Linked DNA regions of Homo sapiens: regions 2 and 3 are each linked to region 1. The links come from fine-mapping of genetic effects on gene expression. A gene starts in region 1. Each other region holds a variant in brackets. All regions are shown on one strand. Distances are between the middles of the regions.

Region 1 (8,168 bases):
GGCTAATTTTGTATTTTTAGTAGAGACGGGGTTTCTCCATGTTGGTCAGGCTGGTCTTGAACTCCCAACCTCAGGTGATCCACCTGCCTCAGCCTCCCAAAGTGCTGGGATTACAGGTGTGAGCCACCATGCCCGGCCAATTAGGTCCAAGTGATTTCTTTGTAATTTTTAAATTCTTCATGGGAGACTCACAGTTCTTTTTTGTTTTTTATTATATTTTTTCACTTTTCTCTCTTTTTGAGTCAAGAACTCATTTTGTTGCCCAGGCTTCTGGGCTCAAGGAAGGACAAGGTTTATTAGCAGCATGAGAACTGACTAATACAATCACGGTGGAAGACCAGAGGGGTCTCCCTGGATCTCCTGGACACCAATGTGTGACTTTGGACAAGTAATCCCCACCAACTGTAAAGTGTGAACACTGATGCTGAAGTCAGCAGAAATTAAAGCCTATAAACTCCCTCTTTGAGAAAGGAAGCTAGCTGGCAGGGCACGGTGGCTCACGCCTGTAATCCCAACACTTTGGGAGGCCAAGGCGGGAGGATCACTTGAGGCCAGGAATTTGAGACCAGCCTGGCCAAAACGGTGAAACTCCATCTCTACCAAAAATACAAAAATTAGCTGGGCATGGTGGCGCCTGTCTGTAGTCTCAGCTACTCAGGAGACTAAGGTGGGAGGATCACTTGAACCCAGGAGGTGGAGGTTGCAGTGAGCTGAGATCACGCCACTGTACTCCAGCCTGGGCGACAGAGCGAAACTCCGTCTCGAAAAAAATTAAAATATTAAATAAAATATAAAAACAGACAGCAGGACAGGCACAGTGGCTCATGCCTGTAATCCCAACACTTTGGGAGGCCAATATGGAAGGACTGCTTGAGCCCAGGAGTTCGAGAACAGCCCAGGCAACATAGTGATACTTCAGTCTGTACAAAAATTTAAAAGTAAAAAATAATAGCTGGGCCAGGCACAGTAGCTCGTGCCTGTAATCCCAGCACTTTTGGAGGCTGAGGCAGGTAGATCACCTGAGTTCAGGAGTTCGAGACCAGCCTGGCCAACATGGTGAAACCCTGTCTCTACTAAAAATACAAAAATTAGCCAGGCATGGTAGCACACACCTGTAATCCCAGCTACTTGGGAGGCTGAGGCACGAGAACTGCTTGAACCTGGGGTCGGAGGTTGCAGTGAGCTGAGATCACGCCACTGCACTCCAGCCTGGGCAACAGGGTGAGACTCTTTCTCAAAAAAAAAATAAATAATAAATAATACCCGGGTATGGTGGTGTGCCACTCCCTGCAATCCCAGCTACTCGGGAGGCTGAGGAGGGAGGATCACTTAAGCCTAGGAGGTCGATGCTGCAGTGAGCTGATTGTGCCACTGCACTCCAGGCTGGGCAGCAGAGCAAGACCCTGTCTCTTAAATAAATAAAATAGTTAAAAAAGGAAAACAGACAGGAAAACTCCAAGTGCAGAGAAGCCTAGTGGTACTTGGTGGGGGAAACAAAAGTTGTTCCAGGTATAATAGTTCCTGAAGTCAACACTCTATCATGGCAAGACACCAGGCACTCAAATTCCAAGTCATGAACTTACCTTTTCCTTGTTTTGAGGATTACATTGTGTTGGGCGACAGCTCTTTTAGGCTTCTGGGAAGTAAGGTATACATTCTGGAGTAACTTCCAAAGAAAAAGGTGAAAGCATACGCGGAACTTTTGAGCCTTGAAAAAGTTCAGCGAGTCATTCTTGAAAAGTCCTTTTTTTAAACAAAGGGGGTTTCAGTCACCTCACATTTGCATAGCAGTTTCTCTCTTGTCAAAGCCTTTCACATTCACTTATTTTAATTCTTACAGCACTCAAGGAAGAGTGTGGAGTTGGGGGTCGGGGGTTGGGTGCAGAGCAGTGTTAACATCCTTCTGTAAGAGAAACGGAGGCTTTTGAGAGGCCAGGCGTGGCGGCTCATGCCTGTCATCCCGGCACCTTGGAAGGAGGATCCATTTGGGTCCAGGAGTTCCCGGCACTTTGGAAGGAGGATCATTTGGGTCCAGGAGTTCAAGACCAGCCTGGGCAACATGGGGGAAACCCTGTCTCTACAAAAAAAAAAAAAAAAAAAAAAAAAAAGCTGGGCGTGGTGGTGTGCCCTGGTAGTCCTAGCTACTCAGGGTGCTTGAGGCAGGAGGATTGCTTGAGCCCAGGAGGCGCAGGATGCAGTTAACCGTGATCGCGCCACTGCACTCCAGCCTGGGCGACAGAGCAAGACTCTGTCTTGGAAAACAAACAAACAACAAATACAATAAATTAAAAAAATTAGTTGGGTGTGGTGGCACACAGCTGTAGTCCCAGCTACTCAAGAGGCTGTGGCAGGAGGATCCCTTGAGACCAGGAGTTCAAGACCAGCCTGGGCAATGTTATGAGACACGCCACCCGCCCAGTCTTTACAGAGAATAAAAAAGTTATCTGGGTGTGATGGTGCACACCTATAGTCCCAACAATTCAGGAGGCTGAGATGGGAGGATCGCTTGAGACACGGGAGTTGGAGGCTGCCGTAAGCCGAGATCGGGCTAGTACACTGCAGCTGGGGCAACAGAGTGAGACCCTGCTTCAAAAAAATAAATAAATAGGGGCCGGGCGCGGTGGCTCACGCCTGTAATCCCAGCACTTTGGGAGGGCGAGACAGGCGGATCACTTGAGTGGTCAGGAGTTCTAGACCAGCCTGGCCAACAAAAATAAGCCAAACGTGGTGGTGTGTGCTTGTAATCTCAGCTACTCGGGAGGCCAAGGCATGAGAATCACTTGAATCCGGGAGGCGGAGGCTGCAGTGAGCCGAGATCGCGCCACTGGACTGCAACCTGGGGGACAGAGCAACACTCTGTCTCAATAATTAAATAAATAATTAAAAAAATAAAGAGGCTCCTGAGAGTCAACTTATTTGCCTGAGCCACTTATTTCACACATCCCAGGACGCCTGATGAAGGGTTCTGGATTTTATTGTCTCCTGTCATCCAGGCGGGCTTCCTGGAGGAAACCGGACCGCCAGGGAGGCCGCGGCCTCGGTCCCAGAGGTCGCGCGTCGCGGGGCCGGGGGAGGTGGGGGAGAGGAGGCCGCTCTGGGGCCGATCCCGCCCGCAGCTGGGGGCCCCCGTCACGTGACCAGCCGGGCGCCCAGGTCACGTGTCGGGGCGGGGAGGGGGGGGGCTGTCGGGGGCGACGGGCGTCCGGGCAGTGGCGCGCGCGGCACGCGAGCAGCGCACGAGGAGAGGTGGCGCGGGCCGGAGCCGCGGAGGGAGGCGGCGGCGGCGGCGGCGGCGGCGGCGGCGGCGGCGGCGGCGGCGGCGGCGGCGGCGGCGGCGGCGGCGGTGGAAGGGGCGGCCCCGCGGCCCCGCGTCCGCGTCACGTGGTGCGAGGCGGGCAGCCATCTTGCTACAAACACAAACACAGAGGAGCGGCCGCCGCGGGAGCGCCAGCGCCCCCTCCCCCGCTGCTAGCCGCCGTCGCCGTCCCCGGCCCCCGCCCGCCGCGCGCCGCCCACGCCCCGGGACCGGACCCTCGCGCCGCCCGCGGTAAGCGCCCAGTGGCCCCGCGGCCCCCGGCCCGCAGCCCAGCCCCGGGGCAGGCCCGCCCCCGACGCCGCGGCGGCCGCGCCGAGCCCGCGAGCTAGAGAAGCGCCGGAGCCAGCGCGCGGGCCGCCAGCGAGGACCCTCCCCCGTCTCCTCCCCGAGGCCGCCGCAGCCCGGTGCGTCCTCCCGCTCTCCCGCCCGCTCCGGCCCATCCCCGCCGCCGGGACCCTCCCCCAGAGCCGGCCAGCCTCGGGGAGGCCCCGGGAGGCCGGCGCCCGGCTTAGGGGGCGACCGCTCGCCCCCCTCGCACCTGGCGCCCCTCCCTGAAGGGCACGCCGTCCTCCCGGGCCGGCGCGCTGCCTTCCACCCCCGCGCTCCTAACGGTCGCCCCCGGGCCCCTGCCAAGCCCTGCCCTGGGCCGCCTGGGGGCCCCCGACCCTAGCGTCCTAGGGTGGCCGGGCCCCGCGCTTCCCGGAGTTCTCCCCAGCGCGCCTTTGGGTTCCCCTCGGAACGAGCTGGGCCTTGCGGTTCCCCAGGTCCAAGCGTTCCACGACTTTGGCCAACATGGAAGCCTTGCCCTCCACCCAGGCACCTCGCCTGGGTCCTCCTCACCTCTGTTTCCTTTCGCTCCGGCGATCTTAGTGCTGGGTCATTGGGGTCTCCTTCTTCCCAGTTGCTCGGCCGCGGGAAATACCTTCCTTAGCAGAGACTGCTTGTCCTCCCCGTCCCAGGCCAGGCCCTTCTCAGCTCATGCCCCTCCGTGCAGCAGCTCCCTGGCCACAGCTCTCACACTTTGCCTTAAAAAAAAAAAAAAACAAAAAAATTTCCGAGTAACTTTTTAAAAGCCCCTCGTCTCTCTTCTCTGTTATACAGTCATTACTCGCATTCCCGGTCAGACTCCAGGTCTGTTGCATCCTAGTGCTAGGAACTAGGAGATGCTACATAAAGACTTGTTAGCTGGATTGGATTTTTTTTTTCCAGCCACCCAAGCCTTACTTCCCTCCTGCCTCTCAAAGTGTCGTTCTGGAAGATCGTCAGCTTTCCCACCCTCTTGTGCACTGCCTCTTCGAGTCTATATAGAAGTTTCAATTTAGAACCCCGCCAACCCCTCGCCTTTGGCATGGAAACACCATCGGTGGTACCAGTAAGGGTCTCTCCTTTGCTGCCGACATGGGGGATTTGGGGTTCTTTCTCCTTCCCATCTTTCCTGTGCCCTTTGCAGACCTAGGCTAGCCACCCTCCACCAGGCTAGCCAGCTCCAATCTGATTTTCTTAGATTGTAGGTCTTGGTCCCCCAGCGGTCTGTCGTGCCATTGGGAAGGATTTGAGGGTAGACCTGGCCTTGGTGTCCCTGCCATTGCCTGGGGACCAGGGGCCCTGAGGGTCCCACGTGGTGGTTAGTCAAGTGGACCATGTGCTTAAACTTCTGGACTAGCTTTTTCTGCTGTTGGACACATCAGTCTTGTGTTCGTGATCTGATGCGTTAGCCCTAACTTTTACATCTGCTATTGGAATTTGGGAATTAAAGAAAAATAGCCCACTTTAGAGGAGAGAAGATGAGAGGAGGAGGCTAGATGAAGGATGTTGAAAGTCTAACAAATGTAAAATGGCTTCAAACTCACAGAATAATGCTTGCGAGTTTGGGATGGTTACTGCTACCGTGCGCACCTCCAGTCTTGCATAGTGTCAAGGATGTCGGGGCACGCTGTCGGAGCAGCTTCCTCCTTCTTTTCCCTGGCTGGAGCCCAAGGCTGGGCAAGTGGGCAAAAGGGATCACAGGAGGTAAAGAGTGAAAATCCTTTGAAAACTGTTAACTTGTAGACAATTGCCAAGCGGTGGTGTGATTTGCTGGGATGGCTCAGAGAGGAGAGAGCTGGGATAACCGACCAGCCGCGAAGAATGCGGGTTTGCATCTCTTTTTTAAGCCTCAGCGTCCTCACCCTACCACGCTTGGAGAATCTCCATCCTGAGAAAGGGCCAGGTCCCCTCCAGCAGGCCTGGGGCTGGGCGGTTGTTCCAGTGTTGAGGAATTGGGGACTGTGCTTCTGTTTAAGTGGCTCTGTTCTGTGCCAAGGCACAGTGCTCTGTGTTGGAGCTAATTTTAGGGGTGATGGAGTGAGGAGATAATGTTCTTAGCTGAATGTGCACTGGGACCGCCTGTTCTCTGTCTTTTCTTTCTCTCTTGAGTTCTGAGCCCCAGAGAGCAGGCTCCCTTTCCCGCGCGCCCTGGCGCCTACTGGAGCACCCGGGCCCAGCGTGTCCTCGCCCCTTGTCTCCGGCAGGGGGCAGTCTTTCAAAAGCATTGATTCAGATGCTGGGGGAGTGAGGGTAGACAGGCCCGAGAAAGAGAAGGGGTGGGGAAGGGGCGAGGAGCCGAAGTAGGCCGAGGCTTGAGGGCAGGGCCAGGGCGGGGGACAGGCTGGAAGGGGCCTGTGAGAAGGAGACCCTGAGCTGAGAAAGCTCAGCCGGGTAAGCTGAGACGGGCAGGTGGCAGTACCCCAGCCCCCGCCACCTCCTGCTCTTACCTTCATTGGACAGGGATCAGATACCTGGCCCTGAGAGCTTGCAATAGACAAACTTAGGCAGTTTTTCTTAAAAAAAAAAAATCTATTCTTTTCTCAAAGATTTTCTCCTGGCAGGATTTCAGATTTCCCTCGTGGGACAGTGTAATTAGGGAATGATGTCCCTGCTGTTCAGAGAGGAGAATGACCCAGCGTGCACACACCTGCCTTCCCTTGCCTTCCCCTTGGCCCAGTAGACCCCCAAGGGCTGTGCCCATGCTCGTGGCGCAGAGGAGGGTGTCTCAGCACTGGCGCACTTGGTATCTGGAGTCACATAGCTCTTGGCTGTGGGGCTGCCCTGTGCACCCCCTGCCCAGTGGTGACAACCCAGAATGTCTCTAGACTTGGCCAAGAGCCCCCTGAGGAGCAGAGGTGCCCCCAGTCCAGAACCTGTTGGAGGGTGGGAGCCCCATGGTGGCCTGCAGGTGTGCCACTAGTTCCTTTAGTCCAAGGAAGGGGCCAGGCACCATCAGCTTCCGGCACCAGACCCTGCTGTGGGGGTGCCTAGAGAGTTAACCTCACTCTCCTGGTTTCTTCCCAAGAAGGCGGGTGGCATGGGCTTTTTCCTGCTCTGGGCCTGCTCTCTCCCCTGTCTTGGTGTCGCTGTCCTCAGTCTGCATGAACCATTCCCCCTTTGTGTGCCCCTTGCAGCCAAGACACAGCCAGGATGGGTGACTTGAGCCGGAGGCACCTAGGAGAGCTGCCCTTGCTGCGCCTGGCAGGGGGCAGTGTGAGGCCATCGCTTTAAATTTTTTTTTTTTTTTTTTTTTGAGACAGAGTCTTGCTCTGTTGCCCAGGCTGGAGTGCAGGGGCGCAATCTCAGCTCACTGCAACCTCCGCCTCCTGGGTTCAAGCGATTCTCCTGCCTCAGCCTCCCGAGTAGCTGGGATTAGAGGCACCTACCACCAGGACTGGCTAATTTTTGTATTTTTAGTAGAGACAGGGTTTTGCCACGTTGGCCAGGCTGGTCTCAAACTCCTGACCTCAGGTGATCTGGCTGCCTTGGCCTCCCAAAGTGCTGGGATTACAGGCATGAACCACCACGCCTGGCCACTTTTTCTTTTTTAAAAAATGTTTAGAATTGTTTCTGTAGAGTCGTGGTCTTGTTCTGTTACTCAGGCTGGTCTCGGACTCCTCTCTTCAAGCCTCCCACAGTGCTGGGATTATAGGCATAAGCCATTGTGCTGGCCAGGTGGTCCCTTTTCTGTTCTACTCTCTCCCACCCTCATGCCTCCAGGATGAGCTTCTGGCCTTCTAGAAGGAATGAACTGGAGGAGGCCCAAAATGGCCTCTCCTGAGGCTGATTTGAAGGAATGTGGGGTGTTTTTCTTGGAGTGGGGAAAACTTAGGTATGCGGTGGTTATCTCCAGATACCTTTTGTTCCCTAAAGCTTTTTTAAAAAAATGATTATTGTGGTAAAATATACAACAAAATTTGGAGACTTTAACTGTCTCTAATTGTGCCATTCTGTGTTACTAAGTACACTCACATTGGTGTGCGGCCATGACCACCAGCGGCCCCAGGATCCCCTCCTCAGTTGAGGCTCTGGACCCTTCAGCAACAGCTCCCTGTCCCCTCAGCCCCTGGTGGCTGCCCTTCTACCTTCCTCCCTCAATGAGTGACTGCTCTAGAGACCTCATGAAAGAGAAGTAAGGGGTAGCTCTCCTTTTTTGGCTGGTGTGTTTCTCTTAGCGTGATGTCCTCAAGGCTCATCCAGTCCCCAGATTGCTCTAGGTGGCCACCTGCAGTCAGTGACAGGCTGGTGGCTTTTCATGTCATGGAACACACCACCACTGGAGCATCCAGCCGAGGCAGAGGAAGGAGAGGTCCCAGGGGAGGCCAGCCTGGCCTTGGGTTGCCTCTGAGCCCGGTGTTTCCCCCTGGAGTGCCTGGACTCTGAGCAGGCCTCGGCTTGTCATGGGCTGCTGGCTCAGCTGGGGCTGATGGCCTTTCCTCCTCAGCACCCTGGTTGAACCCGCTTCCTCTTCTTTCCCAGACTGTGGCGTCCTGGAGTTGATGGGAGCTGCAGCACCAAGCCGGGCCAGCCTCCCTCCCAGCCAGTG
Region 2 (8,168 bases), 19 kb after region 1:
TGAGGGTGAGGAGCAGGGCCGGGAGCCTGGTGGGGAGGGCCTGGCCTAGCTCGCCCCAAAACTCACAGCCACTGCATTGATGTCGGATTCATGGCCGATGAAGGTCTGTCGGCACATGGAATCCCGCACGTCCCACAGCTTGATAGAGGCATCACAGGCGCCTGACACAAACGTGCGGCCATCGGGGGCCAGGGACAGGGACATCACATCCCCACTGTGTCCAGCAAAACCCACTGTCTGCTGGCCTGTCTCAATGTCCCACAGGGCACTGGAGAGGTGACAGGAAGAAAGAAAAGATAAGAGACAGGGCGAAGAACAGAGTCCCTGTTCTCCCCGCCCCACCACGTGAGCCCAACCCTGTGGAAGGGTCCAGGGAGGCTCTTCTCAGAGCCTTAGGTGGGGAGGGGACGCATCCCTCCCTGACCCCCTTAGCGCCCACCAGGAGAGGGAGGCTACGGTGCATGCTGCATGTTGAGCACTGGGACGGTGGCCCCTGAGGCAGGAAGTGTGGGTTTGCCCAGACTGCCCAGCCCTGGCAGAGCCTCACCAGGTGGTATCCCCAGAGCTGGTGATGATTTGGTTGTCATCCAGGAAGCGGCAACACGACAGGTACCCTGGGGAAGGAGCTGGTCAGCCAGGTCTCCACACGGAGGGCAGTGCACCCCCCAACCCCAAAAAGGGCCCGAACTGGGCCAGGCCCCTCACCAGTGTGGCCAGGCAGCTCCCGGCTGACCCTGACGTTGCCCTCGCGGGTCTTGAGGCTGTAGATGGAGCAGATGTTGTCCAACCCCCCACAGGCCACAAAGTTCCCTGAGGGCGCGTAGGCACAGGTCATTACCCAGGAGGAGCGCAGCGGGATGGCGTGGACCTGCGGAGCAGGGGAAGCGCCGGGGTCAGAGCCAGCCAGGGCCCTGTGGCCCTGCCCCACCCCGCAGCCCGCGCCACCCTACCTTGTTGGTGGTGTAGCTGTCCCAGATGATGAGCTTCCCATCCTGGGAGGCGCTGACCAGCAGCCTGGTGGGGAACGGTGTAGGGAGAGCAGAAGGGTGGCGTGAAAACAAGACACACCCCCTTCCCTTTGGGTGGGAGAAGGTAGGGTCTCTCTCTGTTGTGCAGGCTGGAGTGCAGTGGCACCATCACAGCTCACTGCAGCCTGGAACTCCTAGGCTCAAGTGATCCTCCCACCTCAGCCTCCCCCGCATAGCTGGGACTACAAGGTGAGCACCACCACACCCAGCTCATTTTTCAATTTTTAGTAGAGCCAGGGTCTCACTATGTTGCCCAGGCTGGTCTCAAACTCCTGAGCTCAAGTGATCCTGCCCTGGCCTCCCCACGTGCTGGGATTACAGGCGTGAGCCACCTGAGAGACAGTCTCCAGCTGCAGCCCACAAGTTCTCACCAGCATGGTCCTGCCTGTCCAGGTCTGGCGGACATGTCTGGGAGTCACCGTTTTTCCAGACGTACGCTGGGTATTTTGGTGGCCTGCTTACTCCGCCAGATCTGAGGCTGCTCCCACGGCCTGCTAGAAAGTCGGCCCACAGCGCCAGCCCGCGCACACACACACACCTTGAGTCGGTCCCCCAGTGCATGGCATAGATCTTTGCCAGGTGCCCACGGAGGGTCCTCCGGGTCCTCATCTGGATTCTCCCCACTGGGTCCAGCCCAGCTGTGATCTGGAGGTAGAGACAGAATGCGCTCGGGGAGGCCCAGGCAGCAGGACTGCAGAGGGCAGCGGCCTCTGATCCTTGCCCCTTCAACCCCTAGTTACGCTCTGGCCACCAAGTGCCCTCACCTGGGTCAGTGTTGAGTCCCCACATGCTTTTCGGGCATCCTGTAAGGGATGGCAGAGCCAGAGAGACGCGAGAGAAGACAGGTTGGGGAGGAAAGGGAGAGAAGAGAACAGAAGACAGGAGTGGACAGGGTCAGATTCTGAGCCATTAAGGGGCCCTCCCTCCCCCTTCCCCCACCAACACCCTCACCCAACCCGGTCCAGGGCACCGGGCGGTGTACACATGAATCGCCCGCCCCGCACCAGGCCCTCACCCGGATCTGGTTCCGGAGCTGCTCGGCCTCCTGTCTCAGTTGCTCCAGCTCACTCATGGCGCCGGGCCCGTGGGGCAGGGTTGGGGGCGGCTGGGGGCCGCGGGACGGGGGCTGGGGGAGGCAGCTCCTGGCCGCTGGCCCGAGGCCTGGGGGATGCAGGGCTGACGTCAGGCCCGAGGCCGCCGGGGAAGTGGGGAGAAAGGCGGGGTTGCAGCGCGGCCCGGAAGGGGTAAGCAAGGGGAGGGGGAAGGGGCGGCGCGGCCGCCGTCCCCGGGCACAACCAGGGTCTCCGGCACCAGAGACGTCGCCGAGTAAGAGCCGACTTCCCCAATCTTCCTCCCGCCCCCCGGAAACGGAGCGGGAAGTGCAAGAGGAAGCGCAGGGGAAACCCCTCCCTCGGACACAGCCCGGGCAGGACACCCGCGGCAGGAACTGGGGCGGGGGGGGCGGGGGTGTCCCTTCGAAAACAGACCTGGCTTCTGCCCCAGCCCGCACAGGCACCGCCCTCCAAGCACCTAATTTTAAAAGGGGCGGTGCCTCTTGAAATTCACCCCACAAGGCGCACACCCTCCACACACACCCCCAGCTTCGATGGTGGCGGGTGGGGGGAGAGACCAGAGGGGAAAGCTGGGCTGTTCGTGGGGTTGCCTAGGCAACCGTCACCCGGACCGAGAGCACCTCATTGGTGAAATGCCCCCACCCTAGCCCCGTTGCCAAGGCAACCGCATCCACGGCAGAGACCTGTAGGGTGGGTGACCCCACCCCCGGCCCCATCGCCCCCGCCCGACCCAGCCTCCCGCCCTCCCCAGAACCGGCCCGGGTGGCTGTTTACAGGATTTGGGAAAAGCCGATTGGGCGCTAATAGGTTCTGGACGGCTCACCCCGGATAATCCCCGGTCCGGCTGCGCCCCATTAGCCGTCCGCCGCGGGTGGGGGTGACAGCGGCGGGGAAGGCAGCCCCGAGCCGCTGCTCCCTCCAGCGCAGGGACCGCCCGCCCCGCCGCGCCCGCAGAAAGCCCGTGGGAGCCGCTCTCGAGTAATTACGGCTCCGCAACGAGGTCCCCGGCCCCGAGGCGCGGAGGTGCTCTCTCCCAGGCGCGGGCGGGCGGCCCCAGGCGGCCTGGCCGCGGCGCCCTGGACACCCGGGGGGCCCAGCCCGCAGGCTCGGCGCCCGGGCCCCAGGGGCCCGGCTGGCTCCGCTCCGGGAGCCTGAGTCCTTCCCCGCCCGCGGGACACCTGTGCGATCCGGCCGTACACACTGCACTTGGCCGGCCCAGGCGTCCCCCACCCAGCTCCCACTTCCCCCAGGCGCAGGGCGTTCCTCTTCCCCACTGACATTTCCCCTCCTTGTAAGTTCAGCTTTCTACGCCAGTGCCAAGGGGTGACCCTCAAAATCGGGGGATGGGGGGTGCGGGCAGAACTCCTTACTCTACCCAACCCCCAGGCCCGCACAAAGCCTCTTCCACCTACTAGCAGCCCAGGCCTGGCGGCACCGCCGGAGGCCCAGGGCAGAAGGAAGCACGGCTGGAGGAAGAAACTGGGGGCGGGGGCGACGTTCTCAGCCCTCGGTCCCCATCACCCCCCAGGGCCCTCAGCAGCCCCCAGACTCTAGGGATATAGCAGCCGGCGCTCCATAGAGAAATGAGGGTGCAACCGCCTCCGCAGGTCTGGCGGGGCTCAGGAGAGTGACGGGAGGGTCCCTGGATCTGGCAGCTGGAAGGCGCGGGCTGGTGCGGCGCTGCGAAGCGCAGTGGGCCTGGCCCTCCAGCCCCTACGACCTCCATTTTGCCTAAAAGAAAGCTGGGCGGGGGGCGGGCGCCTGGGAGCTGGGCTTGGGGTGAGGATCTGTAAAGGGAATAGGGCGCCGAGGGCTCCAGTTTCGGCGAGTGGGGCCAGAAACCACGGGCAGCACCCAAATCGTGGGTAGGGTGGAGACGAAAGGAAGGGTGGCGCGCGGCCTTGCCTGCTTCTCCCCGATTTTGGAGTTGTGCAAGGCGAGGGCCGGCAGGGGTGCGACAGTGGAGGACACGAGGGGTGCTCCCCGGGGGCAGGCGGGAGGGTGGCGGTGGGGAAAGGGGGCGGGGCGGGGCCTAGAGGAAGCCCGGAATTTAGCCCCCCAACTTCCGAGGGAGCAAGAGGCAGTCGGGGCTGGGCTGGGGTCTGGGGTCGGGCAAAAACTTCGCTGATGGTGCGGGGAAGCGCACGCACGGTGGGGGGCGAGGGTTCCCCAGTTCCCCTTCCGGGTTTGGGAGCGACCGGGCAAGAGGGGAAGGGAGCGGAGGTCTGGGGAGTTACGTCCGCTCCCAGGAGGCCAGCCCCGGGAGACCGAAGGAAGAGAGGTTCCCCTGGGGGAAATTGGGGCTGGGGGGCGAGAGGACTCCTTTTGCCAGCGAAGGTACCTGTGGCGGTGGGACTCTGCGGCGG[A/G]GGTCGCTGGCGGTGCGCGGGCGGCGCTGTCTTCCTCCGCGGCGGAGGCGGCGGCGGCGGCGGCGGCGGCGGCGGCGGCGGCGCGGATGGATTTCCTCAGTGGCCCCAGCCCCGCCGCCAGCGCTGCCTCCCCAGAGCGGAGGGATCCCGCCCGCCAGTGACGCGGCTGCCGCCGCCGCGCCCAGGACCCGGCTGGGCGAGACCAACTGCCTCGCACTTGGGGGAAGCCAGGAGACAAAACCCCACCGAGGGAGCAAAGACGGGCCCAGTCGCTCCCAAGGTTCTCACCCTACGCTTTGTGGACGCAAACCGTACTCAAAGGGTTTGCTTCACGGAAAGGAGTAAGACATCCCCCCTCTGGGACTGGAGGAGGTGGTACTGGCATATGAGGAGGGTGAGACCGCTCGCTGGTCACGTGATCAGCCTCCCGCCCCGCCTGGAATGGGTGGCTCCAGACTGGGAAGGGGAGTTCGACGCCCCAGTTCCCGGTTGGGCCACGCCCCGGCCCTGAGGAGGCCACGCCCCTCACCAGGGGGCGGAGCTAAAGAGACCTGGACGGGGCCGGCCTCGAGGCTGCTGGAAGAAGAAGCGCGATTCCGAGAAAGTCCCCGAGCGGGAGTGGGTAGGGGCTGATGCGGGCGCCCCGGGAATGCCATGAGAAGGGTCGTGTCCAGGCATTTCCTCAGCCTCGCCCACTGGGCCTTTGTAGACCCCCTTTCAGGGCTTGCCACTGAAATAACAACTCATTTATTGAGAGCCACACTTTTTTTTTTTGAGACGGAGTCTCTCTCTGTCGCCCAGGCTGGAGTGCTATCTCAACTCACTGCAACCTCCGCCGCCCGGGTGCAAGCGATTCTCCTGCCTCAGCCTCCTGAGTAGCTGGGACTACAGGCGTGTGCCACCACACCCGGCTAATTTTTTGTATTTTTAGTAGAGACGGGGTTTCACGGTGTTAGCCAGGATGGTCTCCATCTCCTGACCTCGTGATCTGCCTGTCTCGGCCTCCCAAAGTGCTGGGATTACAGGCGTGAGCCACCGCGCCTGGCCCGACACTTATTTTTTAATTGGAGTACAGTGACGCGATTGTAGGTCACTGCCACCTCAATCTCCTCGGCTCAAGTGATCTTCCTGCCTCAGCCTCCCTAGTACCTGGGACCACAGGCGTGCCCCAGCCACCATGCCCAGCTAATTTTTAAATTTTTGGTAGAGGTGGGGTCTTGCTATGCTGCCCAGGCTGACATATGTTAAGTCTCACAATACTGGGAAATTAAGTGCTAACATTCTCCCCATTTTCTTTTCTTTTCTTTTTTTTTTTTTTGGAGACAGGGTCTCACTCTGTCGCCCAGGCTGAAGTGCAGTGGCATGATCTCGGCTCACTGCAACCTCCGCCTCCTGGGTTCAGGCGATTCTCCTGCCTCAGCCTCTGGAGTAGGTGGGATTACAGGCGCCCGCCACCATGCCCAGCTAATTTTTTTTTGTATTTTTAGTAGAGACGAGGTTTCACCATGTCGGCCAGGCTGGTCTCAAACTCCTGACCTCAGGTGATGTGCCCGTCTCGGCCTCCCAAAGTGCTGGGATTACAGGCGTGAGCCACCGCGCCCAGCCTTCTCCCCATTTTCTAATAGTGGAAAGAGACCTGAGGCTGCAGAGTTTAGATATGAACCCAGGCAGCCAAAACTTTACTGTACATTCCAGTTTATCTGTATGAGCCTCTAGATGAACCCCTTCCTCCAGGGACCTTGCCTGTAAAGGGACAAGAACGTAGGTCTAGGCCTCAGTTTCCACATCTGTTAAATGGGGATGTTGACAGCATCTGCCCTCCAAGTCCCGGATTCTTACTGAGAACCCCATCGATTGTGGAAATGCTTTGGGAAGTTCAAGGCAACGAATAGCCTTCACTGAGTCCTTGTAATTTGAAAGTATCAAAACACGCAGCCATAAGAAAGAACGAGATGGGGCTCACGCCTGTAATCCTAGCACTGTGAGAGGCCGAGGCGGGTGGATCACTTGAGGTCAGGAGTTTGAGACAAGCCTGGCCAATATGGTGAAACCCCGTCTCTGCTAAAAATACAAACATTAGCTGGGCGTGGTGGCACACACCTGTAATCCCAGCTACTCAGGAGGCTGAGGCAGGAGAATTGCTTGAACCCGGGAGGCGGAGGTTGCAGTGAGCCAAAATCACACCACTCACTGCACTCCGGCCTGGGCAACAGAGCAAGACTTTGACTCAAGAAGAAGAAAGAAAGACAAAAGAAGAAAAAGTAAAAGAAAGAAAAGGAGGGAAGGAAGGGAAGGAAAGAAAAAAAGAAAGGAAAGAGAAAGGAAGAGAGAAAAAAGAAGAAATCATGTCCTTTGCAGCAACATGGATGCAGAAAAGAGAGAGAGAGAGAAAGAGAAAGAAAAGAGAGAAGGAAGGAAGGGAAAGAAAGAAAGAAGAAACAAAAGAAAAGAAAAGAAGAAGAAATCGTGTCCTTTGCAGTAACATGGATGCAGCTAGAGGCTTTTATCCTAAGTGGATAAATTTCTGCAGGAACAGAAAACCAAACACTGCATGTTCTCACTTATAAGTAGGAGCTAAACACTGGGTACTCATGAACATAAAGATGGGAACAATAGACACGGGGGATTACTAGAGGGGGGAAGGGTTGAAAAACTACCTATTGGGTACTGTACCCCAGGTGACGGGATCAATTGTACCCCAAACTTCAGCATCACAAGATATACCCATGTACATGGGTACATTCATGTGCACATGAGTCAGAATCTAAAAAGATGAAATTATATTTTAAAAAGTATCAAAACATACTCTTCATTTAGTCTCTGTGAAAGACATTACAAATCACTTTTCAAAAACAATTGTTTTTTCTTTTTTCTTTTTTTTTTTTTTCTGAAATGGAGTCTTGCTCTGTCACCCAGAGCTGGAGTGCAATGGCACAATCTCGGCTTACTGCAACCTCTGCCTCTTGGGTTCAAGCGATTCTCCTGTCTCAGCCTCCCGAGTAGCTGGGATTATAGGAGCATGCCACCAGGCCTGGCTAATTTTTGCATTTTTAGCAGAGATGGGGTTTCATGTTGGCCAGGTTGGTCTTGAACTCCTGACCTCGTGATCTGCCCGCCTCGGCCTCCCAAAGTGCTGGGATTACAGATGTCAGCCACCGTGCCCAGCCTACAATTGTTTTTTCCAAATCGAATATGTTATGAACATAGTAGTTGTCTTTGTAATGGGTACACACACTCACACACACAGAATGATCTGCCTGGTGGGGCAGGGAATTGTAAACATGCCAAAGGGAAAATGAAAAAAGAATCCTGTAGGTTTTCATTATTTTAGGCAATTATGTCCATATCACTTACAAAGCTATTGCCAAATCTGTCTAAGGAAGCAGAGTTTGAAGGTGGGCCGGGGGGGACATCTGGGAGAAATTCGAAAATGGCATAACAGAGCTCTCAATATGAGAAACAAAAGCCCAATATTTTTTTAAAGAAAATATAAACAATCGTATTCGTAGTTAGATGCAAATTCTATTTATGCATACCTGCCAATTCAGTGACATATAAGCAATAGATAACAGATGTCAACTACACATGAGAATTTGGGAGGGACCTCAGAGATAATTACGTTGATTTCCTCAATCTGTAGATGGCCACGATGACTTCCCTAAAGTCACTTAACAACAAGCAGCGCAGGACTACAGCACAAT
Region 3 (8,168 bases), 190 kb before region 1:
TGACCGCGCACATTGGAGAAAGTGGTGGGAGGGAGGGGACGGGTTCTCTGGGGCTCTCCGCTGAGCTGAAGAGTCCGGGATCCCGTGGAGTTGGGGGCCACCTCCTCCCACTGCCCGTCTGGACTGAGCCTTCCCTTCCTTCCGCAGGGATCCCAATGAGCCCCGAGACCCCAAGGCCCCACAATGGCCCCCGTACACGGCGGGGGCTCAGCAGTACGTTAGTCTGGACCTGCGGCCGCTGGAGGTGCGGCGGGGGCTGCGCGCCCAGGCCTGCGCCTTCTGGAACCGCTTCCTCCCCAAATTGCTCAGCGCCACCGGTATGCAGGGGCCAGCGGGCAGCGGCTGGGAGGAGGGGAGTGGGAGCCCGCCAGGTGTAACCCCTCTCTTCTCCCCCTAGCCTCGGAGGCTCCCAGCACCTGCCCAGGCTTCACCCATGGGGAGGCTGCTCCGAGGCCCGGCCTCCCCCTGCCCCTCCTCCTCCTCCACCAGCTTCTCCTCCTCTTCCTCTCCCACCTCCGGCGGCTGTGAACACGGCCTCTTCCCCTACGGCCACAGGGGCCCCTCCTCTAATGAGTGGTCGGACCGTGGGGAAGGGCCCCACTCAGGGATCTCAGACCTAGTGCTCCCTTCCTCCTCAAACCGAGAGACTCACACTGGACAGGGCAGGAGGAGGGGGCCGTGCCTCCCACCCTTCTCAGGGACCCCCACGCCTTTGTTGTTTGAATGGAAATGGAAAAGCCAGTATTCTTTTATAAAATTATCTTTTGGAACCTGAGCCTGACATTGGGGGGAAGTGGGAGGCCCCGGACGGGGTAGCACCCCCCATTGGGGCTATAACGGTCAACCATTTCTGTCTCTTCTTTTTCCCCCAACCTCCCCCTCCTGTCCCCTCTGTTCCCGTCTTCCGGTCATTCTTTTCTCCTCCTCTCTCCTTCCTGCTGTCCTTCTCCGGCCCCGCCTCTGCCCTCATCCTCCCTCTCGTCTTTCGCACATTCTCCTGATCCTCTTGCCACCGTCCCACGTGGTCGCCTGCATTTCTCCGTGCGTCCTCCCTGCACTCATACCCCCCCTTCAACCCGCCCAAATGTCCGATCCCCGACCTTCCTCGTGCCGTCCTCCCCTCCCGCCTCGCTGGGCGCCCTGGCCGCAGACACGCTCGACGAGGCGGAGCGCCAGTGGAAGGCCGAGTTCCACCGCTGGAGCTCCTACATGGTGCACTGGAAGAACCAGTTCGACCACTACAGCAAGCAGGATCGCTGCTCAGACCTGTGACCCCGGCGGGACCCCCATGTCCTCCGCTCCGCCCGGCCCCCTAGCTGTATATACTATTTATTTCAGGGCTGGGCTATAACACAGACGAGCCCCAGACTCTGCCCATCCCCACCCCACCCCGACGTCCCCCGGGGCTCCCGGTCCTCTGCATGTCTCAGGCTGAGCTCCCTCCCCCGCGGTGCCTTCGCCCCTCTGGGCTGCCAATAAACTGTTACAGCCACGGGAGTGTGCGCGACTAGGGAGCCAGGGGTAGAGGCAGAACGCCGGAATCACGGGGGCCGAGTCTATGCAGGAGCGGGGCTGGAGGGCAAGAAACAGGCGAGCTCCGAGGCGGGCGCAAGGCAAAGGCCAACCCCTAGCCCTGCCCTGCCGGGCGGAGCTCGCGCCTGCGTAATGAGGCCCGCAGGCAGGCTAGCTGGCACGGCGGAGGGGAGGAGAGGGGAGGGGAGGGGAGGGGAGGGGAGGGGAGGGGCGGGGCGGGGCGGGGCGCGGCGGAGCATTGTGGGAGCTCCTCGGTCGGTGCCGGTCGGTGGCTGCCTATTGCGGCCTGCGGTGATCAACGAGGCCCGGGGAGCGCGTCCCCAGTCTGCGCGCCGGTCCTGCGGCAGCTGGCCCAAGACCCGGAGCCGAAAGGAAGTGTTGGAGCCTGAGGTCGCTCCGCGCCGCTAGGAGGACGCTGTGCCTGGCCTGGGACCTCCGCTCCCGCCCACCGCCCTGGAGCCGCTGAGGGACGTCCACGTGGGCCTGTCCCCGCCGAGCCGCGGCCCTGTCCGCCTGGCGCTGCTCTCGGGCCACTACCTCTACTACCACTACGGCTGCGACGGCCTGGACGACCGCGGCTGGGGCTGCGGCTACCGCACTCTGCAGACGCTGTGCTCGTGGCCAGAGGGCCAGCCCGCGGGCGTACCTGGACTGGCCGCCGTACAGGCGGCCCTGGAGGACATGGGCGACAAGCCCCCCGGCTTCCGGGGCTCCCGGGACTGGATCGGCTGCGTGGAGGCCAGCCTCTGCCTCGCTCACTTCGGAGGGCCCCAGGGACGCCTCTGCCACGTACCCCGGGGAGTGGGGCTGCACGGGGAGCTGGAGAGGCTTTACTCGCACTTCGCAGGGGGTGGGGGCCCAGTCATGGTTGGGGGGGACGCAGATGCCAGGTCCAAGGCCTTGCTGGGAGTCTGCGTAGGGTCAGGCACGGAAGCCTATGTCCTGGTATTGGACCCTCACTACTGGGGCACTCCAAAAAGCCCCAGTGAACTACAGGCTGCTGGGTGGGTGGGCTGGCAAGAGGTGAGTGCAGCCTTTGACCCCAACTCCTTCTACAACCTGTGCTTGACCAGCCTTAGCTCCCAACAGCAGCAGCGCACCTTGGACTGAGGACGAAGTTACAGAACTGAGATTCTCGGGTCCCAGACACGCACCTATGTACCTCCCACTGGTGTCCCTGCAAAGCCTGGCGCTTTTGACATCAATAATAAAAGTGGCAGGGCTGAGCAACACCTCAGGAGTTACTCTGGAAGGATGGAGGAGTTATGTAACACACGAGAGTCAGGAGCCCTGTGGAAGTGCTTTTATTAGCAGTAAGGCTGATCGTACAAAAAATTCTCAGAGCTTCATAGGACAAGGTAGTACAAGTATGGATGATACAGGACTGAGGAACGGGGGACGGCTCAAAAGAAATCAACATCGTCTGGGGCATCCAGGTCCCGATATTCCACAATGGCCCTTGGGTCTCCACGAACCATCCTGTGAGGTGAGAGGTACAGGATGAGAGCTGAGGGCTCCCAAAAGGGAGTCTGCAGGCGGCAACAAAGCTTGGGCGTCTGCCCTCCTCACCTGTTGCGAGGTTTCCCAGGATAACCTCCCTGGCCTCGGAAGGCATCATAGTTCCCTCGACCAGCACCATACGGGGCATGGGGGTATGGAGGGCCTCCTGTGGGGACTGCAGGGCGGACAGCACCAGCTATGACAGAGATCAGTGTTGAGTTGCAAAACTATGTCCTCAATTCCATCCTCTGTTTTCTTCTCCCAAAGCCACACACTCACCAAGCCCCTTCATCTCCCTCCTGTACTTACCTCCATAGCCCAAGATCGGGGGCCGGGGCTGACCATAGGGCATCAGGCCCTGGGGAGTCTGGTGTGGGTAGGGGAGTCCTGGGGTCAAACCTGGGGGGAGTACAACACGGACAGGGACATGAATTACTGCGGGGGCGGGGAGGGGGATACGGGTACAATTGACTTCTAGGGCTATGGCCTGAGGATGGGGCAGAAACTTCTCGGGGTGACACGTTAAAGAGAAACAGGAGTCCCTGGGTAGTCAAGGAAGAGGGCACATGCGACCTTCATGGATCGTATCTTACTCTGGGCGGGGCCAGGTGGCTGGGCTGGCTTGATCTCAGGCAGAGCTGGGCGCTTAGCATCAGTGAGGAAGTTGTTAAAAAACGCGACTTCCTTTTTCACTTCCTCAATTTTCTCTGCATGCTTGTTGAAGATATGTTTGCGCACAAACTCAGGACCCTGGGTGGAGAGAGGAGAGGGGTCAGGACAGCCACATAAGGGTTGCCTCGCTCCCAGG[C/T]CCGAGCTGGAAGGATTCCCAGCTCCCGCCTGCCAGTGCAGTAAGCAGTTCCCCCACCCCTGCCCAGGGGGCTTCCTGTCTCAACCCCACCTCCCACCACCGTAGCACGGCCATTCTCCAACATCCCACACCTTGAATTTCTTGCCACTGAGAGGACACAGCCACTTATCCTTGCCCAGTTCCTGCGTGTTGGAGGTGACGAACTTCTCCACTTCCTGCTCTGGGTCTTTGCGCCCCATCTTCTGGGCCTCTTCCTCTGAGAGTGACTCCCGCACACTCAGCAACGGCGTGAGCTTCTCCTCAAAAGTCTTCTGCCACTCCAGCACTGTGGTTTGGGAACAGAGGAAGGAAGGTTGGCAAGGGAGCCAGAAGGAAGGATGGTGGCAAGGGGCTGGAGGACCAAGGCCAGGGGCAGCCGGGAACAAAGGGGAACCTGGAGCTCACCTTCCCCGTGACTGATGCGGTTGGGTGGCATGGGCCCCCGAACGTGGATGATCCCACAGCGATTGGGCATCTCGTCCTCGTTGGGGTACTCACAGGTGTTGTAATAATCCAAGGAATGCACGATGCGCAGGTAAAGGAGGAGCTTGTCCAAGACCTAAGGGAAGTGAATGCGAGCGTTCAGCTCCTGCCCTCACCGCCCGAGCCCCCACGTGCCCCGCGCTGCCACTGGCACCTTAATCAACTTCTCATCCCGCTCCACGTTGATCTCTGCCGGGTTCCCTTCCTTAGGAGGCTCCTCAGGAGGAGCGCCCCCGCTGCTCCCCAGCAGCTCCTCCTCCTCGGCGCTTACTTCCTCGATCAGGTAGTCGGTGATATTCTTCAAGATCGGGTTTTGCGAGGGCAGGCTCTGATGGGAGGAAGAGAAGCAAGTAAGGCAGAGAAGACCTTCAGAGGAGGTAACCTGAGACTTTCCACAAGTGAAAGAGCAGCGAGGGGACAGGAGTTCACCGGACATAAATGGCACCTTTTGCCCCCTTGAGATTTGTCTTTATTTTAGCTTTTGTTCCACCCCAGCCACAAATGATCACTAGCATCCCCCCAGTTCTGCTGGAATCTGGAGGTGCTGCTACCCACACACGAAGGGGCAAATGAGTGAGCAGGCGAGTGGGTGCAAGGGTTCAAGGCTACAGATAGGTAAGGTCAGAGGTGCCCACAGCAGAGGCACTACCAGTTGCTTCTGACAAAGTCCTTTGGGGAGTCACTGACCGTGGGCAGGGGAGGCGTCCCTGGTTCTGAGGCCCAAAGCTGTGTCCTGTCATCCAGCGTGTGGATCAGCTTGGCCGCCAGCTTGATGTCGTTGCGCACAATCTGCTTGTGCTGGGTGATGCCGTTGATGTTGCGAACGCGCCGGGTCAGGTCCCTGTTCACACCAGGGCTCAGCTCACACTCCCGGAGCTGGAGGGCAGACATCATCAGCAGCTTACCCCACTTACCCCGCTTGCCAGAGAAACAGCAGCTCTAAGACCCTTCCCTCTTGAGCACCAGCGATTGATCAGACTGCGAGCTCCCTGGGGACGGGGACCACATAGGTTCCGTCCATGCTAACGCCCTAGAGCCTTGCCCAGAGACAACGTAGCCAGACAAAACGGTCAAAGAGTGTGCAGAACAACCAAACTATCAGATGAACAAAGTCACACAGAGGTCCCGTGTGGCACAGAGTCTCCCTTCCTCTTCCCCACAGTCCCACCCCCAGCACTCACACGGATGTTCTGCAGGTTCCAACAGATCTCTTTAATGTTAACACTGCGGTCGAAGGTCACCCAGCCACGACGGAAAAACCTACACAAGAAAGAAAATGTTAGCATAGTCAAGCGAGGGAGTTGGTGTTGGCCATTAACGTTCCCCTGCACTTTTCCCTCCAACGCACCGAGTTACTCACCTCCTCTCTGGCTGGGGCTCTGAGAGCGCCACCCGCATAAAGCCTGGGTACCTTTTACAAAGCTGCAAGAAGCAGAAAAGCAGCCCCACAGTGACTCAAGGATTCATTCGCTTCTTCCTCCAATCCCCCACTGCCCTCAGAACCCTAGGGACTAACTGCCTTATCACTCTTCCCATCCTTGGGCAGGGAAAAACCACTAAAGGGCTTCAGAACACCAGCACCTGAAAGCCAATGGCGCTATCAGGACTAGTCCTCGGAGGCCATGGAACCTGGGGAAGGGGCCTCCCTAGCAGGTGAAACGGGGGCATCTGTCACAGGCAGGGCCCCACTGCCTTCCCTCTACCCTCCACTTCTCCATCAGCCCTGCCCTGACTCCACGGGTCCCCACTCACGGAGATGATCTCGGCCCGGGAGATGTTGGGCGCGATGTTGCGCATGAAGAGGGAGCAGGTCTTATGCAGCGGCCGCGGCTTGCACTCCAGCCCCGCGGCGTCCTTGGGCTTCTCCCATTCTTCTTCCTTGGGCTTCTCCTTCTCCTTGAGCGCTTCTTCTAGGCAGGAAGGGGGGTAGGAAGGAGTTGGTGCATTTTTATTACTGATTGTGGTGGGGAGGATACAGAAGCTTTCCCCTAAAAGCCACCCACCCTCCCGTCAATGTCGCCAACCTCTCACCTCCCCACCCGCATTAGGAGAACGCACTTTAAAGCAGAAAAGAAACCCTACCGGCCTCCTCCTTCTCCTCCTCAGCCTGGCCGCTCTCTGACTCCGACTCAGACTCTGACACGCTGCCCTCGTCAAAGCTGTCGTCACCACTGTGCTTCCGGTTCCGCTTCTTGCTACTCTGTGTGAGCCACAGCAGAGGGGACAAGTCAGCGTGCCAGAACCCCAGCCCCAACACTCTGACCCCAGGCCACAGACACCTCACCTTTTTGGCTTCCTTCTCGGAGTCTTCTTTCTTCTCTTCCTTGTCCCCATCACCCTCCGACTTCTTTGTTTTGTCATCATTAGAACTGTCATTCTCAGCCTATGGTAAGAGACAACCACTGGGGATGTCAAACCTCCCCTCCCACCTTTATCAGAGGGCCCCCACCCCCACAGCTGAGGCCACAGGTTCATTTTCCCCAGCCCCCTACTTCTAGCTCCTATGGACCCCTACCCGCCCCCCTCCCCCAGGCTGCCAGGGACAACACTAGGAGACCCAGGGCTCGGACCTGCTTGCCGTCTTCCTTCTTCTCATCCTTGTCGTTGGTTTTGCGCTCCCCGTCCCCTAGGCCTGCTCCAGCCCGTCCTTCTTCTTTCTTGCTGGGCTCCCCAGGCTTTCCTGCCTGCTCCTCCTCCTCCTCCTGCTCCAGGATGCGAAGATCATTCTCCGTGCCTCCTTCCATCTTAATCACGGCTACCAACAAAGGGAACAGAGGTCATGACCCCAGGGCCCTGGCTCCTGTCAACCGGCTTCTACCTGATCCCCAGACACCCCCACCCCCATGGGGCCCAGATGCCTGCCACCCCTCCAAATCCGCACACCTGCATCCAGCATCTTGACAATGGCATCAGCTTTGTCTATGTCCAGGAGAAGGTTATCAAACCAGCCAGTCTCCATGAGGGACAGGAAGACCCTCAGTCGGTTTTGCAGGGCCCCCCGGGCCTCCTGCCGACGCTTCCCCACCTCATCTGGGTGGTACTTAGACCGAAACCTGGGAACGAAGCGGGGGAGGGAAAGACAAAACAGTTATTGGAAGCCAAGGCCAGGATGTGGGAAGGGGCCCAGGAAAGACAGGGCATATCCCCCTTCCTCTCACAACCACAAAAGGTCATCAAAATAGAGAGATTAAGGGATAGGGGTGCGCTAGAACCACCCAACACCCCAAAAGGAACCAGAAGTTGTGTTCTGTGAAGATTTGGGGGAGAACCAGGAACTAAGAGCTCTGGATTTGGGAAGACCAATGACTACAGGGGGACGCCAGGGTAGGAGAGGCAGATTTACCACTTTAAATCTCTGGGAAACACTAACGTAGTAAAAAGGTGTCATTTCCCAAAGCTTCAGAGAGGAAGGCTCAGGAAATAGCAGGCCCTGAAGAACCTCCCTCTCCTCACCAACCCCAAACTGCAGTCATTCAAAAACTGCTCCCGCCAACTCCCTCCACCCCGAGGTGGAAGACAGAGGGCCAGATAGCAAAAGCCCAGAGGCAGGGCACCTTTCTCCACCCGTGGGAAGATAAGCAAGACGGTGAAGGGACAGGAAAGACCGAAGGGAGACACTGGAGTGCCCTTTAGAGCCTCAGGTCCTGCCCACAGGGGGAGAGAGAGGAGAGGGCTGGAAGGTTAGGGAGAAGAAAAATAAAACATTTCAAATAGGACCTCAGAGGGAAAACAGAAGAAATGAGGAGTATGAGGAAAAGGGGAAAGGGAGGAAAGGGGAGAGTGTGAGAAAGTCCCAGAAACCGAA

Alleles and levels. Alleles are on the strand shown, and positions count from the first base shown. SD is a standard deviation of normalised expression in the study named. Not every link is listed here.
For the expression in atrial appendage of the gene that starts at base 3,407 in region 1, allele G in region 2 goes with a lower level than allele A (small effect, 0.29 SD a copy in GTEx).

What was found. PIP is the estimated chance that this variant, and not a neighbour inherited with it, causes the effect.
Region 2: its variant is fine-mapped to the expression of GIGYF1 in atrial appendage (GTEx, PIP 0.93).
Region 3: its variant is fine-mapped to the expression of GIGYF1 in whole blood (TOPMed, PIP 0.99).

What each region holds. Positions count from the first base shown.
Region 1 is chr7:100,689,489-100,697,656 of GRCh38, reverse strand. It overlaps GIGYF1 (GRB10 interacting GYF protein 1), which reads left to right and starts at 3,407. Exons shown (of 27, transcript NM_001375765.1): 1 at 3,407-3,547; 2 at 8,102-8,168. RefSeq lists an enhancer at 1,498-2,301, silencers at 2,989-3,148, 3,589-3,688, 3,859-3,978, 5,741-5,910 and a cis regulatory region at 2,840-4,333.
Region 2 is chr7:100,670,198-100,678,365 of GRCh38, reverse strand. GNB2 (G protein subunit beta 2) reads right to left here and starts at 4,626. Exons shown (of 10, transcript NM_005273.4): 1 at 4,443-4,626; 2 at 2,044-2,189; 3 at 1,793-1,831; 4 at 1,567-1,673; 5 at 951-1,014; 6 at 706-868; 7 at 548-614; 8 at 67-268. The coding sequence starts at 2,100. RefSeq lists silencers at 2,027-2,606, 2,617-2,856, 4,447-4,626, 4,877-4,956, 4,967-5,096 and enhancers at 3,527-3,606, 3,807-4,016. The variant A/G (reference allele first, on the strand shown) is at 4,468.
Region 3 is chr7:100,883,318-100,891,485 of GRCh38, reverse strand. SRRT (serrate, RNA effector molecule) reads right to left here. Exons shown (of 20, transcript NM_015908.6): 6 at 7,247-7,416; 7 at 6,934-7,118; 8 at 6,648-6,746; 9 at 6,446-6,563; 10 at 6,116-6,273; 11 at 5,724-5,785; 12 at 5,545-5,623; 13 at 5,051-5,239; 14 at 4,518-4,691; 15 at 4,286-4,439; 16 at 3,973-4,166; 17 at 3,627-3,783; 18 at 3,343-3,444; 19 at 3,103-3,229; 1 more. The coding sequence ends at 2,937. It overlaps UFSP1 (UFM1 specific peptidase 1), which reads left to right and starts at 1,771. Exons shown (of 1, transcript NM_001430944.2): 1 at 1,771-2,765. The coding sequence starts at 1,987. The coding sequence ends at 2,643. ACHE (acetylcholinesterase (Yt blood group)) reads left to right here. Exons shown (of 5, transcript NM_000665.5): 4 at 148-317; 5 at 1,151-1,492. The coding sequence ends at 1,272. RefSeq lists silencers at 328-377, 449-606, 1,698-1,747 and enhancers at 1-544, 768-827, 545-1,278, 4,949-5,682. The variant C/T (reference allele first, on the strand shown) is at 3,842.